2 separate regions of the Homo sapiens genome follow, and region 2 is linked to region 1. The links come from fine-mapping of genetic effects on gene expression. Tissue or cell type: whole blood. Region 1 holds a variant in brackets; the other region holds the start of a gene. All regions are shown on one strand. Distances are from middle to middle.

Region 1 (2,760 bases):
AGGGTCTCACTTTGTTGCCCAGGCTGGTCTCACTTTGTTGCCCAGGCTGGTCTCAACCTCCTGGCCTCAAGCGATCCTTTCACCTTGGCCTCCCAAAGTGTTAGGATTACAGACGTGAGCCACTGTACCCAGCTACCTGTAACAATTTTAAGCTTATCTTAAAAAAATTGTCAGATCATTTTATTTTCCGAGGTTCTTAGGATATAATCCTATTGTTTTGTGTAACTGATGACTTTTGTTCATGATGAATTGTTTTCTTGTGTATTTTATAATTTTAAGTTGTGAAGTCATCTTCAGTGAGGCTTTATTAGAGGAATCCTGTGTGTCCAGATGCAGGGTCTGTCTCTCCAGAGTACTTTTCTGCTTATTTCTAACATATCTTAGAAGCACCATCTTGCTGTTCTTTTCAAATCCTCTGCATATTGCATCATCACTGCTGTCACTTTGTGAGCACGTACTTTCCCTATGAGGAAGGAGAAAGTGTTTTTTCCTACTACAGTCCAGGGTGAAACAAATTTCCTTGTTTCTCTGCTGGTTGGTGATTATTATTTTTCCTTATCCAAATTCCATCTGAGGATATAGTCCTTGGACGCCCTTAACTTTCTGTGGGAATCTGTGTCAACTCTCTACCATAGGTGTTCCAGGCCTTGTCTCAGACCACAGGCAAGTGCAAAAGCTCAGCTCCCAGATAACCAAGGCTGACACTTGTCCCTAAGGAAGCTGCAGGGTCAGCTTGGTTTCAGTTCTCTTTTCTTTTCTTGTATCTGGGTATTTCAATTTATTTTCTTGTGGATTCAGCTATTTAGACAAAGGTTTGCTTTATTTTGTCCAGCAGCAATTTCTAAGTGCTTGTGGTCAAAAGATTTTCAAGTTTTCCAGTCAGCCAAAATAGCAGAACCAGAAAATATTCTTTACATGTGAAGAGTTCATATAAATTAGTAAACTACCAAGCTTACAAGTGGCAAAGGTCATAAATACAGAATTTTTAAAAGCAGAAATACAAATGTTCCATAAACATTTGGAAAGGCCAAGAAATACAATTAAAACAATAAGACAAGACACAATTGTGGCCTATCAAAGTCATGGATATTTACAAAAAGAAAGAACAAGAATTGTGTCAATGGCACGGTGAATTGAGTATTGTAACCCATTCAGTGAAAACATAAATGGGTTATTTGAAAATAATTTGCTTTAAGAGCCTTAAAAAATTTATTTCCCCTGAGCTAGTATTCATACTTCTAGAAATCTACACTAAGGAAATAATCTAAAATGCAGATAATTGGTAAATTTCATATTCAGAAAGAAACATGTTATTTTTAAAAAATGTATATCACCTTCCTTGAAATCAGGGATATTTTATTTACTGCAGTCTTCAAAACCCCAGGCATAGACAAAGATTGCAGAGGTTGTATAAAGGCTTAAGACACAAACACTATTAGGGAACAGTCATAGAGTATCTTATGGAAACACCTGCTGAGTGGTTACGGCCACTCTGCCTAGCCCAAGCTGAGGTATAGCTTGGAAGAACAACTGGAGTGGAAACAAATATCAGAAAAACA[C/T]GTACAGCTATCGTTGACCTTTCCTACGGTAAGCGTTTTCTCATCCTCCTAGAGTGAATGTGGGACTCTGTGGTGTATTCTCCTCGGAAGTCTGCTTTCTTCTGTCATAGCACTGGCTACACTGCCTTGACTTCCCAAAGGTTGGGAGCTCCTTTGGGTCTGTGACTGTGTGCCCTTTACCTCTATATTCCAGTATTATATAGGGCAAACCAAAGGTACTCAATAAATGTCTGTAGAATGAACGAATGAGACTCATGGGTAACTGCTCATCCTATAAATCTTAGGTAAGGTGGTTTGCAGGAGGCCTTGTGCAGCAATAAATGCAGGAGTCCACGCATTAGGATTCCTTTGGCGGCAACTTCCTCAGCTTCCAACACTGACGGAAAATGGTTAGAGGCCTAGGTGCATGTGGGTCAGGAGCCTTGCTGACAGATCCAAAGCTGACAGTCTGGAGCATGTGTGCATGCTGCCTTTGGACTCTGGGACATGTCACTGATATTCTCCAGGAAACTTGTGAAACCTCCTGTTTATAAAGGTTTCTCCATCTGTTATACTTTCTGTACTTTCCCTTCTGCAGCTCTTGGTAACACGGATGTTTGCATTCCACAGGGATTCCTGTTGCTAAAAGGTCTGTTTTCTCCTGCTAGCCACCCTCATCAGCCAGAGTTCAAACCCTGACAGTGCCCATGGAGAGATCTGGTCCAAGGCACCAACCTCTTCCTGCTGGACTGAGAAAGAGCCTCCTACTGTGTCTCTCTTTACCTCAGCTTTTGCACACCTCCAATATATTGTCCACTGAAGTCAGAATAATCTAAAAATAAAGGCTGATTACCTCATGTGGTATAAACTTACCAATGACTCCCCGTTGCCTAGAGGCTCAAATTGCTAGCATGGCCTGGCGTGTGGCCCTGGTCAACCAAGTCTCACTTCCACACCCTGACACTGCCACTATGACAAACTGTTTGTTTCATCTTGTTTTCACCCCCAACCTCCACACCTTTGTCCATGCTGGTTTCTCCACTTGGGATGTGTCTTCCTCTATTGACTGGAGAACTCCTATTTTTACTTTAAAACACCAACAAGATACCATCCCTCTTTGAAGGCTTCTTTGTCTCCCTTCAAGCAGAATCAGGTGGGCCCTCCCCCGTGCTCCTATAGCAATTCGTATAGAACTTCTAAACAAGAGTATTTCTTTGAAACT
Region 2 (2,760 bases), 30 kb before region 1:
GACATTGGGCAAGTCACTTCACCTATAAACTGTCTTTTTGAGAGGATTAAATGAAATTGTATATACACACCTAGCTCTGGATCACTATATACTTGGCCCTCAAATATAGTTCCCACCCCTATTCACTTACCTTCATCAACTACTTTATTCTGCAGTCATGGTTATGCTGACTTTTGGTTGTTTCCAAAAATGTAATTTCCCTAGAAAATCTTTTTCCCTTGCTGAGGATAGTCCAGAGTGTGATGGAGTCATTTTCAAAAAACAGTGTCCAATAGTTTGAATAATGGCAGCATTGTGGGGAAAAATAGTCTCCCCAGAGGATTTCAAAGAGGACCAAACTTATTTGAAAGTAACAGTATTTTAAAAAACTAATCATATAACTCTGACCTTTCTTATAAAATGTAATGCAACAACATATAAATCAACTCTGAATGTCTGTTTCTAGCATATTTTATATCTCAGGTCATCTTCCAGCATAGGAACACACATTTTCCTATTAAAGTGCTCAGATTTTCATTTGCCCAGAGCTGCAATGAGTGATTTGTGGTTACAATTTTTTTGCCTACAGTGCAAAATGAGGTTTCCATTTAGGCATCTCAAAAGCCCAGCGATCACTTTAAGTCATTCCTTTAGTAGACAGCCGATGGCTTAATTTTCAAACTTATATTTTTACAGATTTTTTTCAGCTAATTTGCTATTTACTGAATATTTTTTTAAAACATTGCACCTCATTCATGGTATGATAAAATCAAAATTAAAATAATTATGCTAACACTCCCAAAAAACATAAAAACAGGCCAATTTTAGTGAAAGTTACCCATTATTCCCAAGCTTAGTGATTGCTTTAAATTTTTTACAATCATGGTTTGCGTCTTCAATGAAATACTTAAAAAAAAATTATTACTTCTGGATGCAGTGGCTCATGCCTGCAATCCCAGTACTTTGGTAGGCTGAGGCAGGACGATCACTTGAAGCCAGGAGTTCAAGACCAGGCTGGGCAACAAAGCGAGATCCCATTGCTACAAAAAATTTAAATACCACCCATACAAAAAAGAGTAAAAATCAAATGGTTTCTCTTCAGTGTTTTATTTCAAAATGTCCTCATTAAAAATATTCCATAACCAAAAGTAAAAGTCCAGATGATACAAACGTAAATGTCAATCATTTTGGTGAAGTTGACAATATGGTGGTACATTTTTGGCAGAGCAGTACCACCAATTAGACCTGCTGTTGACACTGAGGGTCACCCTCATTCCCAGAAATCCATAGTCAACAGCTTAGGAGGCTTAGGACTGAAGCCTTGCTTCAGTTTGGAAATCTGGTGAGAAACCTACCTTCTGCACGCAAAGAGCCTTGGACCAGGAGCCTCGTGGTCCAGATGGAAGTGAGAAGCAACACCAGGCTGAAGCACCTGGCCATCGTGCCTACCCCTTCAGAGCCAGGGAAACACCTCAGATGGCCACTGGTGATATGAGAGGCAGATGCTCAATAACTAGTCCGGATGGAGAGTTCTGGAACTATGTTGAGGCTCACACTCACTGCTCCACTTCATAACCGAGACATCCGGATTTCCCTGCTTTCAAGCTTCTGACTTGTCAAGGTCACTGGGGGAAATGAATGACGTCCCTTGAACGCCCAGGCTGTACTTTGTGGATGGCCTTCTGGAAAATTTAGCTAATGCTGACTCAGAAAACACACAAATGAGGAAGGCAGATAGCACAGTGTGAACTGCTAAAGGTTCTCCCAATTCCCATATTCCCTGCTGTTCCTCCTCCCCCAGCAGCTCAGTTCTCACACCATTCACTGTTACTGCCTGTGGAGTCCATCGTTTATGTACTCCTAGAAACATCTCTGTCCCTAAAGGAGACTGAGCATAGGTTGTGCCTCTTTTCCTCCCGCAATCAGTGATTTTTCCACCCAGCTGTTCGGCCTTGTGATCTGCAGGGTATGATGCTGAAGCTCATGAAAGTAAATGTCCACTTAAATACTGAGTCTAGAACCTTCTGCCTTCCTTTGAGTCTCCTTTTACACATTTGAAATCTCTACACCACTACAGGTGATTCCTTTTTCAAAGAAACCAGGCACATATAAACATTCACATTTACATAACACAAGTAGGAGGGCAATTTACAAAATTAAACATTTTACACTTTCCCCAAGGATTTTTAACTTTACAATAGTAATCACCACAGGGGTCTTTTATGAAATAACTTTCTCTTAATAACTCCTTTCATATTCTGGTAGGCCAGAATTCAAGTCAGACTCCACCTTTGTTGTTCGATGAACATGAGGTTTATCTGTGCTGTGTACCAGCAGAGTGTATTCTATGTTTTTCCAGCCGGATTTTCAGTGGTTTTTGCTTCATGGTAATTATGGAGTTCTGGCTTGTAAGCAATGTCTTGGGCAAAGGTTTATGAGATTTTTCCAAAATGAATGTCTTTTATAGGAAAAGTATATGGATAACGAATTCTTTTTTATATAAGTGGTACTGGTCATAAAGTTAGATATTTGTGTGAAAAATATCAATAACAAAAAGAGAATCTGCTCTAAACAAATGCAGGGAACTTCTAAAAGACCAGGGTAACAGCCCTTACACATCTCCAATACCGACCTCATGATCTGGGTGAGCACAAGCCCCAGTTTCTCAGAAACATGCATGACTCTATCATCACAGCACCAGGGAGGCAGACAGGCAGAGTCCTGGCCTCTTCATGATTATTCTTAAAGCCTAACACCATGCCCGAAAGAGAGCTAGCTTTC

The links. PIP is the estimated chance that this variant, and not a neighbour inherited with it, causes the effect.
Region 2: it holds the start of LYVE1, and the variant in region 1 is fine-mapped to the expression of LYVE1 in whole blood (TOPMed, PIP above 0.99).

Annotation. Positions count from the first base shown.
Region 1 is chr11:10,597,523-10,600,282 of GRCh38, forward strand. All of the region lies in intron 15 of IRAG1 (inositol 1,4,5-triphosphate receptor associated 1), which reads right to left. It overlaps IRAG1-AS1 (IRAG1 antisense RNA 1), which reads left to right. Exons shown (of 4, transcript NR_046375.1): 4 at 2,169-2,410. Among named protein-coding and RNA genes, the nearest start is that of LYVE1, 30 kb to the left of the region's middle. The variant C/T (reference allele first, on the strand shown) is at 1,560.
Region 2 is chr11:10,567,114-10,569,873 of GRCh38, forward strand. LYVE1 (lymphatic vessel endothelial hyaluronan receptor 1) reads right to left here and starts at 1,552. Exons shown (of 6, transcript NM_006691.4): 1 at 1,335-1,552. The coding sequence starts at 1,419. All of the region lies in intron 1 of IRAG1-AS1 (IRAG1 antisense RNA 1), which reads left to right.